3 linked regions of the Homo sapiens genome follow. The protein of the gene in region 3 interacts with the protein of the main gene of each other region in a biochemical or structural test. Each region holds a gene or a part of one and is shown on either strand. Other genes may lie near its edges.

Region 1 (3,749 bases), on a different chromosome or scaffold from region 3:
AGGGAAAATTTTCTTCTGCCCTGCAAGCCCACTGCAGGCCAAAGTAAACAAATGTCCTGTGTGTCTCCCTGGGCTAGCATAGGGTTTTTTTTCCCCCCAGTCTGTTCTTGGAGGGTATAGCGCCTTGAATTTCCAGTCCTATGCAGGATCACAGTCCTGACTTCTTGTATAGGCCCAAGTCCTTGTCTTTAGTTTCCTGTGCACCTATTAAAACTCTAGAGATTTCTGAGATAAGTAGGTGCCCTCAACACAACCATGGCTTCACTGCCCTGCTTACCACTCTGGTGTCCTGCCCCTTCTTCAGGTTGAGTGTGAAATTTGGAAGACTGTCAGAAACATTCTATTTTCATTCTTGCAAGTTATGCCTTTGAAAGGATGTCTTATTTATCCAGTGTTTCTGTGTGTTTAATAATCAGAGCATTTTTCAGGTTATCTCTTACTGTGCCATGTTGCTCCTTGATTCCTTTCTCTCCTGTACCCACTGCATCAATTGAGTTTTTTGCTCTACATTGATAGAGAAGCACAATTCCTCTTTCTTTCCACTGCCTTCCTACTTTATTTCCCTTCTATTCTTGCATCTCTATACTCCATTATCCACATTGCAGTCTAGTGATCTTAAAGTGTAAGCCAGGTAACATCGCTTTCCTGCTTAAAAAAGCCTTTTAATGGTTTTTTGTAATATAGACTTTTTACCATGGCATTCAGGATCTTTCATGACCTGAATCTTGTCTGCTGTAGTGTTTTCTTAATAGTACCGCCTTCTTGTTCTAGGCCCCAGCTACACAGGCCTTCTTAACTGACCGTAGCAAGCCCTTTTCTTTCTTCTCCTGCCTGTATTGCTTTTCTCTGGGTGCTTCTTATTGCTGTCTCTTTCTGTTCTTGCCTTAAGTGTCACCTCCTTAACGAGGCCTTCTCCGACCACCCTATCCAAAGTAACCTCGCCAAGTTTTTTCTTATACCAGGTGTGACTACTTTAATTACTGCGTCCTCATATAAGCTCCACAAAGGCTTGGTGAATCGTGTTCACCCTTGCATTTCTTTTGTGTTTTTTGTTTTGTTTTTGAGGCATGACGACTCTGTCACGCTGAAGTGCAGTGGCCCGATCTTGGCTCACTGCAGCCTCCTCCTCCTGGGTTCAAGCGATTCTCCTGCCTTAGTCTCCCGAGTAGCTGGGACTACAGATGCGTGCCACCATGCCCAGCTAATTTTTGTATTTTTAGTAGAAACGGGGTTTCATCGTGTTGGCCAGGCTGGTCTCGAACTCCCGACCTCAGGTGATCCGCCTGCCTCAGCCTCCCAAAGTGCTGGGATTACAGGCGTGAGCCACCGCACCTGAACCACCCTTGTATTTCTGATGCTTAACAGTGTCTAGTCCATATCAGACACTCAAATATTTGTAGAATAAGTGAAACATTGATGAACTCCTCCGTGGATAAAATAGGGAAGTCTTAATTTGCAAGGAGGTGATACTTAATTTAGCAGCAAAATTTTAGTTAAGAATTTGTAAGCAAAAAAGCAAAATGGATAACGGATGAATTCCCAGAAACAAATGTCGCGGAGCAGATGTGTATAACAGCAATCGTCTGTCAGCGTCTTCCGTCGGCAGAGACCTGCTTGGAGACAATGCTGAATTAAATGAGGGACTGGCTGCTCCTCTCAATACAAAGACTACCCAAGGAATAAAAGCAACGTCTATCACCGAACTACTACTCCCAGCGGCCCCCGCGCGGGCCTGCCCATGGGAGGTGGCGCTCGTCTCCGCCCCGGGGAGCTCCGGCTTCGGGGCGGGAGGGGTTCTGGGTTCTGGCCCCGCCCCGCCCCGCTCCCCGCCGTCTTCCTCCCCCAGGGTTGTGGCCACGCGCAGCGGCGGCGGTTGTTCCGCTTCCCCTCCGGCCCGGGCCGTCGCCATTGCCGAAGGCTCCCTCCCCTCCCCTCCCTGGCGTGCGCAGGACTCCGCCGCCGCTGGGCCTAGCGGTAGCAGCGGCTGCTCCAGCGCGGCGTCTCTTCCCGCCCCGCTTCCCCTTCCCTCCCCTCCCCTCCCCGCACCGCGCGCTAGCCCGGGGCGGCTCCGCAGCCCGCCGGGAGCTCTGACCGAGGCGCCTCGCTGGGGCGGGGACCTTGCCTTGCCCGGGGTAAGTGCACACAGGCCGGCCGGCGCGGGACGCAGGCCGGGTCTCTTCCTCCTCCTTCCTTCTCCGTGGCCTGGCGGGCGGGAGCGGCCCGGGACGGCCGACCTGCCCCGCGCGGGGCCGGGGAGCCGCCACCTGCGTGCTGGGAGCCGCAGCTCCTGGGGCGGTGGCTCATTGTCTGCTCCCCAGGGCCGTTTTCTTCGCTGGCTTTAGCCAGAAATGGGAAGCTCGCTGGGCTGCGGAGGTCTGACTCTTCCTGGACCCAGCCCTGCTCTGAACCTCGCGGCACCACGGTCTCTGCCGACTCTCGGTCTTCCCTCCCCTCGCGTTTCACCCTCTTCCTTTGCTCCGTTTTCTTAATGCTGGACCAGACTCTCCGGTTTTGTTCCTTGATTTTTCCTCTCACTGATTCTCAGCCCCTGCTTGCTCGCTCTCTGTTCACCCGTTTCACTGCTCAGGAATATTGTCGCGAGTAGCTTGACTGTTTTCTCAGCTCCAGCCTGTAACCTCTTTTCCACATTCCACATTGGTAAAAACGTAGAGCGTCCCGGGCGCTTGAGGGCCACCGCTTACGAACTGATCTTTCGGAGCTTCTCCTCGCTCCTGTTTGAGCTTCAGCCTAGGGGTGAAATTTGCTTCTTTAGATAACTTAGGTGAAGTTAAGATTGGTTTTTCACCATGTTTGGCTCTCTTGGAAACACACGCACGCACAAACACAAAACGTTGCCACTCAACCTTTTAACTAATTCTTTAAAGATAAGTCATCCAAGAACAGAAGCGTGTCATCGTCAGTGGGTGTGAGGTTGTACCCATCCTTGTATCTTAATTTTAGTAGTACTCTCCCTGGGCAGTGTGAGCGTGATTTGTTGTCCCTTGATAAATAACGAACTCCGGTTGATATCATTATCTCACTTCTGCGTTACAGGCGATGTGTCCTTTCTTTGTTTTCTTTTTTAACCTTTATAAAAAGACAAAATGGTTAGGCCTAAAATTAAACTACGAAGAGCTGTGTTTTGGATCAAGGTTGTGCACGTCACGTTTTTTCCCCTGCTGTGTTCGACTCTTCCGCTCTTATAAGTAGGCAGGATATTGAAATGTACAAGAATTTGCTCTGGGGATTTTGTTTTTGTAGGGTTGTCCAATAGAATAACACTCAGTAAAGTTACATTGGGATGAAGGCAGTGAATAGTAATTTTTAAAGCAGGTTAAAACTTGTCAACTTTGCCAGAAGGTCTGTGGCTTCTGTAAAGCCCACTCATGCTCGTGTATATATGAAGAGCCTTTTTCATGTTCTGTTAGGAGTATGGATTTCAGGCAACTTTTTCACTGTGTCATCCTCGGCTATTAAATCTTTCGAGCTACTTATTAGCCAAGCACATTGATTGACACTTATTACGGAAAGTGAACCTGTAATAGATGTAGGTCTTAAACCAACTTTCCGATTTGGTAACAGGTTGACCTAAATTCAGTGTATTTTGTGTTTTCACTAAGTAGCCCATTGTTACCTTTCCCTCCAGCAAGGCTCTGAAAAAAGTGGCTCCAATACTCAGCTTCAATACTGTCATCATTTCTTAAATAGTAGTATCAGTTGTCCTTAACTTAATGGATGTTTTATTGGCC
Region 2 (3,749 bases), on a different chromosome or scaffold from region 3:
ATTCCAGTCGAGGCCTGAAAAATGCTTGCCAGTTTCTGTTCAGTGACAGCATAGTTAGTCCTCAGGTTTTGCATCTGTGAAGCATGGATGGAGAAAGAACTGTCTCTTAGAATTTCACACATCTCACAAAAGAGTAAGATGCTCTTGTTACTAAGCTTGTGCTATATCTGCTTTGGGAGGGAATATATTCTTACAAATTAAAAAAACACAAAGCCAATGGCAAGATTCACGATGCCTGCTAGGGACTGGACCTCTGCCCCCTGTCTCTCCGGACCAACAGGTGCCATGGTCCTCTTGATCTCCTGTGCCTGACCATCCCTGCAGTGAAGATGGCCAGGCCAACCCTGACTCCAGGGGCTCTAGGTCTCCATGTGAAGTGGTGACCATGAGCCCTCCGGGTGAGAGCAGTCTGCCTTTCCCCACTCTGAATGAAGAACTGCCCAGGGCTTGCCAGACACACACCTCAAGTTACCATAGGTCTAGAGTTTAATTACAGATTATGTTTATGAAACATGCTGGCTGGGAAGTCCTCTAAAAGGGAAGAAAGTATTTCAGGTCATACCTAAAGCACTTCTCCTAATGGTGGCTGAAATTCAGACCTTGACATTTTGAAGGCCCACTGATCAGCTGTCCTAGCTGGGCCCCCTTGAATTTTTCTCAAACCTGTCTCTTAATACGTTATTTGGTGTTTTCCATGTTTGCTGTTAGTTATCTCATACCTAAAGGGCTATTATCATTATTAATATTTTTATTTTTTGAGCCAGAGTTTCGCTCTTGTTGCCCATGCTGGAGTGCAATGGCGTGATCTTGGCTCACTGCAACCCCTGCCTCCTGGGTTCAAGTGATTCTCCTGCCTCAGCCTCCCAAATAACTGGGATTACAGGGATGCACCACCACACCCAGCTAATTTTGTATTTTCAGTAGAGATGGGGTTTCACCATGTTGGTCAAGCCGGTCTTGAACTCCTGACCTCAGGTGATCTACCCGCCTCGGCCTCCCAAAGTGCTGGGATTGCAGGCGTGAGCCACCACGCCCAGCCCTATTATTATTTTTGACAACAACAGCAAAGATCTGCCCATCCGACTGCAGGAATTTAATACACAGCCTTTGTCAGTGGTAGAAATTCTATCACTGTATGACTCATGAGTACATAACAATGTGCTATACCATACTTCCTCTTTGAGGGATAAAGCCCCTGCACTCTAAGGGAGGATTTCATTATGCATTTCTCTTATATCACCAGAAAATTATTTAGTGGAAGACAGTTTAATATTTGACAGCTTTGAACCATTTTTTTTTCTCTTTCAACCAGTCTTTTTACATTGTCTGCTTAAAAACAGGAAACCACATATCTCCACCCCAGCACAACCCACCATCCACCAGCACAGACCGTATCATTTTGGATCTACAGTCTTTTTCTTCCAAGCCTGGCCAGGTGCCTGCTCCTACTTTGCAGGAAACCCCTCCAGGCACTCCCGGTGCGTGTTCTCAGAGCCCTTCTGAGAATATTCAGGATTGCACTTCCTGGGCTGCAGCGCACCCTGTACCCTCCTTTTTTAAGCCTCCTCCCCTGAGTCACTGCTACCCTTCCCTCCTCTAACTTCCCCTTCTCTGCAGCCTCCTTAGCAATTTCTTATCATAAAGTTTGTTTTAAAGAAGAACTGCCCCTCTAAAAAAATAATAAACTGTCGAGGGCGGTAGCCCCGTCTAGAGGTTTCCGACTTTGCTCTGTGCCCACCTGAAGCCTCCCCAGCCCGAGGTATTTGAACTTACATTCAGTGCTTCACGTCTCTGTCCGGGGTGCCTCTGTCTCTCAACTCTGACTTCTGAGTACTGGCAGTTAGAACAGGAAGGAAGTCAATGAGAAAAAAAAATGTTTTAGACCTACTTGAAGAGGAAACCCTGGGCTGTCTCAAATCCTGTTCCTTTGCACTGCCTATCTCTTGATCAGCCAACTTGAGCAGCATTCTTGTCAATTAATGGCACATGTGCGAGCATGACAGCCCGTGTGACGTGGAGATGCATGAATGTACACGCAAGAGTGTGGAGCCTATAGCTATGGGTATTATGAATAATTGTGAGGGTATTTCTGATAATCAGGTCATTGCAGTGCATAAGCCTATGGAGGTAAGGAGCCTGAAACCAGTAGCAATAAATTCACATCGGCTTTACTTTGTACCACTCACTTCTGTTCCCACTGGGTCCCCGCCAGCTTCATTATCAACCAGATACGTTGAAAGTTTGCTGGCAGTGAATGTAGAGTGCTAAGAAATGATGATTGTTAACTGCATATACTACGGTCCTAAATTTAAAAATGTGTCCTTAAACAGATTTTTGGAGTTTTGTTGGTTATAATTTCAAGACGTAGCTTTGTATTGCACTACAAACAGTCAAATATTGTTTTTAATAGTTTTGGCTGATTTTTCTTCAAATGAAACAAACAAGCAAGCGAAAGTACTGTCTTTGATGAAACCTAGGAAAGAAATTACAAAAGGAAGTAAAACTTCATTAATTCATAGTCTTCCAACTCAGAATTTGTGACAACTTAACAAGTGCCAAAATAGACTTTGTACCATATTTGAGGAAATGGTTTATGAAGTAATTTAAATGGGAACAAGTCTCGGAGGCCATGTTTAAACCATCTGAGGAACAGTTTTTAAGCAGCCAAGTCACATTCATGCTGTATATTCCCGTAGCTGTTACCAATAATAAATGCTTATTTAGGTTAATATTTCAATATTCAGTATTTACACTACATCAATATATTTAGATCTGACTAAGCACACAAATTTGGAGAAACTGACGTTTATTTTGTTTTCACCTAAATGTACTGCATCTTCTTCATTTCCCTTTGTAAATTGATACCACAGGGTTTGCCTTCTACTTAGAGTCAATGAAATCGGAATAATCAAGGGAGTCATTTCACGTGAGAAGAGATTAGCCTAGAAAAATATGAAAAGGAAAATAGTATATAATTAAAATGAGCAAAAATACTAAAAGCCTAATACCACTTTATTCTATAAATTTTAAAATAGCATAGACAGAATACAGCCCTTGAAACAATGTACATAACTTTATTGTAAAAACAAAGCAAACCCTAATTTACACAGAAGGCAGTAACTTACACATTCTATAGCTCTGCACCCTCAAGAGGGGATACATTTATTCATTCCATAACATTTATCGAGCACCTCTTTTCTTTCAAGTACTGTTCTAGTTCCCTTGTGCAGCAATAGACCGCAGGCGACATCTCTGCTGCCCTGTGGAACTTATGTTGTACCTAGGAGACAATTAAAATAACACAGGCAGAATACATTAATTGTAACAAGAAATATTTAAAAATGAAAAATGGTAAATGCATGGTCTCTATTCCACCACTCATTTCTCATGTTATTAGGGAACACCTCACTAGGCAAACCTGGCTTTTTTTTTCCCTCCAGAGCCCAGTGTATATCGGAGGGTATGGGAGCACCCCTTCCCAGAAAAATCTGTAAAATCAATACATATTTTACAGATTTGTATTATAGATTAATGTATTTATTGGGGGATGAGAGAGCATTCATAATTTTAGAAAGTTCTAAAAGGACTCCAATTATCAAAATATACTTAATTCCTGGTCATATGCAAGGAGCCACGGAAAGGTACAGAAATAAACAAGACACAGTCCTAGACCTCAAGTAGCTAAAAGATGTAATGGGGAAGACAGAAGCAGACAAATTTAATTTTTTTTTTGTCAGCATAGGAAAAGA
Region 3 (3,749 bases):
CAGCTAGGGAGGCTGATGTCATCCTGTCCACTGGAATCCCAGGCTGGATTCGCCAGTTTACCGAAGAGAGGATTTCAAATGAAAGTGAAAATTAAGTGCCAAATGATTCAACCTCAATTAGCAGCACACATTCTTCCATGCAGAGCTGAGCCCTGCCTTCCTCCCCGGGGTCGGGGAGGCAGTCATGACGGAGCAACAGGAATGGGCTCAGCTCTGTTCTAGAAACTGGCGCGATGGCAGGGAGTGAGGCAGATAAGGGCCCCGTCCTCAGGGAGCTTCCATCCAAGAGGAGGAGTGGCAGCAAAGGAGCAGCAAGATGAAGTCGGGCTGTCGGGGGGCCTATGAAGACAGCCAAGCAGGGTGGTGGGATGGAGAGGGCAGGTTGGAGACGGGGGGCTGCTGTAGACAGGGGGTCAAGGAGGCGATGTTTAAGCAGGGAACTGAATGACAGGAAGCAGGGAGGGTTCTGGGTGTCATAAAGGGGAGTGAAGAGGTTCGGGGGAGGCAGAGATCATCAAGGCAGTCTGTGTACTTGGAGTGAAGTGGGTAAGGGGTGTGGTAAATGAGGCTGGGGAGACGGGGGCTGTTGTTCACGGTTTGCGCATTAAGATGAGTTTTAAGTGTGAAGGGAGCCACAGGAGAGATTTAGGCCAGGTTAACTTTCAGTTGTTTTTTGGGAGGCTCTTTTTATTTTATTTTATTTTTTGAGACAGGGTCTCACTTTGTTGCCCAGGCTGGAGTGCAGTAGCACAATCACAGCTCAATGCAGCCGCACCCTCCTAGGCTCAAGCGATCCTCCCACCTCAGTCTCCCGAGTCGCTGGGACTACAGGCATGCACCACCATGCCCGGCTAATTTTTGTATTTTTTGTAGAGATGGGGTTTCTGCTCCATGTTGCCCAGGCTGGTCTCGAACTCATGGGCTCAAGCGATCTGCCTGCCTCAGCCTCCCAAAGTGCTGGGATTACAGGCATGAGCCACGGCGCCCAGCCTAACTTTCAGTTTTAAAAGCTCACCAGGGCTTCCGTCGAGCTTGGTTCTAACGAGGTGAGGTGTAAGGGGGCGCCCCTCTATGCCACAGGCACACGAGGGCACTGTCTTCCTGCCATGTTTCTGTATCCCCAACACCTAGCACGGGGCCATCCACAGAGCAGACTCAGGCTCCCCATCTGCGAAACGGGGGATTTGATGCAAAGAACTCACAGGGCCCTGCCGGCTCCAATATAGGGTCTATACAACAGAGCAGGCGGCAAGAGCCAATCACGGTGCAGCCCCACGAGTCCTGGCAACTGATTGGCTGCTCAGGAAGGTGTCAGTTCCGAAGGTTCAGGTCCATCCCTTTGCTGTTAACCCCTCATGGCTGGCAGCATGGGGAGCCAGCTCTCAGGCTTATCTGATCTTGTATCTGCAGCAGGGGCCTCCCCAACCCCCAGCAAACCTACCATCCTCAGCCCAGAAGCTCTCTCCACCTTAATCTCAGGTGCCAGAGATTTGGGGCTGCCTGTTTTTCCCAACCCACCTTCTCTCCCTCTTCCCCCTCCAATGTCAAGGGCCCAGTGTGACTATTTTACCCTCCCTTCACAGGGGCACAGGCATTGGCAGTAGCAGGATCCCGCTCTGGGGTCTCGTCTGGGGCTGAGAAACTTTGTGCCTGAAGCCATATGAGGGTGTGAGGCAGGATTCACCACAGAACTTGCAAGACCCAGTGCAAAATGGAAGTACAGGGCCCATGCTCAAAAATGATTAAGAATTTCAAGATGTAGACATCAGAGTATTAAACAAGGTGCAGGACCCTTCTGAGCATGGGGCCCTGTGCAATTGGATAGGTGGCCACACGCATAGAGCTGGCCCTACTGGGATACCTTCACCCAATCCTTCGGAGAGACTTGGGAAGGTAGATCTGGTCGGGCCTATTTCTCCAGCTTCTGTGATGTTGTCCAGGACAACAAAGTCCACTAGGGGCCACCAGGGATCAGGGACCTCCAGGCTGCTGAGAGCACCTGGCCATAACCTGGCCTCAGCAGCCTCAGCCATCCATCTCAACGTACAAGGGAGGTGCCTGGGGAAGGAGCTTGGGACTTCCAAGCCTCTACCTCTTATAGAAAAGGAGATTGAGGCTCAGAGAGGGGAAGTGATTGGTCCAAGGTCCTTCAGCAAGTGGGTCCTTCAACTCAGCCAAGATGCACAAAGGCGGGACAAGGTCTCAAGCCAGCATCCAGAGACCCAGGGACAGAGGCAGTGACAACACACTGCTGGTGACCATGGCCTTGAGCAGGAGCTGCCTCACCTAATTCTCCCTCCCTGCTCAGGTTTGCAGCCAGCCCTCCCTTGGCACTTAGAGGCACCTGATAAACGTTTGATAGTTGATGGTGAGTGGGCAGGAATCCTTGTTCCCATTTTGTATATAAGGACAGGACCAGAGAGGGGCACTCACCAGCATCAGGACCGAGCTGGGGCAAAAGCGGCTTTCTAGGCTCTCTGCTAGGGTTTCCCTGCCCTCTCCTGGCTGCCTGCCTTCCTCTAGCCTGGGCCAGGGCATCTAAGGCAGCTGAGCAGAGTGTCCCGGGGAGAGACAGCAGCAGAGAGAGCCCAGCCCACCCAAGTCTGGGGTTGGGGGTTGGGTAGTGAGGAATCCTCTGGGGTGGGTTGGAAGCATCTCGGCTCCAGGCTCTCTTCTCCCTTCTGCCTGCCCTCCTCTTCCTAGGAGAGCCTGATCCCTGCCCCTGAAAGGGGGGTTCATTAAGATCAAGAAATGAGGGCCCCCGCGAGGTTCTGCATGGACCTTGGCTCTGAAGCTGGACAGGACCGTGTAAGCCTGGGAGGCAAGCCTCTTAGTGGCTGTGAGGCTCAGCTTCCCCATGGGTGTCCTGTGCATGCTAATAGCCATCTCCCAGGGGGATCAAATGAGATCACACATGTGTGACATCTTGCGCAGGGGCCAGCATGTGGCAGGCCTTTGCTAGATGGTGGCTATGATCGATCTTCCTGTGGTCCTTCCCACGATGTCCAAGTCAGGTCAACTCAAAACACATGTGTTGTGTGTAAGGTAATGCATGTGTCATACCATGTAGAAGACACTGTGCTGAGATAATGGGAGACCCACAAAGAGCTGGCCATGGCTCCCTGCCCTCCACAGGCTCATAGTCATGGGAGAGATCAGATAAAGTCACTCTGGGGAGTGGAGACCCCTTCGTGGTAGATCAGAAAGGCTTCCCGGAGGAGGGGGCACTGGAGCTGCGCCTGGAGGCTTTAGACAGGTGGATGTGGGGAGAAAAAGCACTATGGGGAGAGAGAACAGCTTGAGCAAAGGCCCTGGGGTAGAAATGTGCAGGGAGCTTGTGGCGAACAGTAGGGTCCGGAGGAGGCAGAGTGTGAAGCAAAGTAATGGGTAATAAGGCCAGGTGGGAGGTTGAGTGAAGGCCATCAGGAGCCTTGAGTGCCATGCTAGGGAGTCGGGGAAATGTCCTAGGAGTGATGGGGACCCCTGAGGGCTGGCCAGGGAGGGGCTGGTGCCTCCCCAGTCATCCTTCCCTCCTGAGTCTGACACCAACACGCTCCCTCCACGTCCGATGACAGCCCTGCCTCCGCATCCTGCAATAGAGCGCAGGGCCTCCCAGGCCTGCAGACAGCTCTGTTCCACCCCTCAGCATGCCTTGTCCCCAGGTGTCCCTGTTCCTTGGAGTCAGGCTCTCTGGATCACCTCCTCCAGCAGCCTGCTTCCGCAGAAGCTCCTCTCCCAGCTCCTGCTCT

Evidence for each region.
Region 1: the proteins of RAC2 (region 3) and PAK2 form a complex in vitro, tested with the Homo sapiens proteins (one study listed by BioGRID).
Region 2: the proteins of RAC2 (region 3) and ARHGDIB are reported together in a solved structure, tested with the Homo sapiens proteins (one study listed by BioGRID and IntAct).

The regions. Positions count from the first base shown.
Region 1 is NC_000003.12:196,738,026-196,741,774, forward strand, and holds the start of PAK2 (serine/threonine-protein kinase PAK 2), read left to right. Parts: upstream 1-1,831; 5' UTR 1,832-2,132; intron 2,133-3,749. UniProt on the Homo sapiens protein: Serine/threonine protein kinase that plays a role in a variety of different signaling pathways including cytoskeleton regulation, cell motility, cell cycle progression, apoptosis or proliferation.
Region 2 is NC_000012.12:14,959,764-14,963,512, forward strand, and holds the start of ARHGDIB (rho GDP-dissociation inhibitor 2), read right to left. Parts: upstream 1,839-3,749; 5' UTR 1,774-1,838; intron 1,518-1,773; exon of another isoform or gene 1,391-1,517; intron 1-1,390. UniProt on the Homo sapiens protein: Regulates the GDP/GTP exchange reaction of the Rho proteins by inhibiting the dissociation of GDP from them, and the subsequent binding of GTP to them. Regulates reorganization of the actin cytoskeleton mediated by Rho family members.
Region 3 is NC_000022.11:37,237,549-37,241,297, forward strand, and holds part of RAC2 (ras-related C3 botulinum toxin substrate 2), read right to left. Parts: intron 1-3,749. UniProt on the Homo sapiens protein: Plasma membrane-associated small GTPase which cycles between an active GTP-bound and inactive GDP-bound state.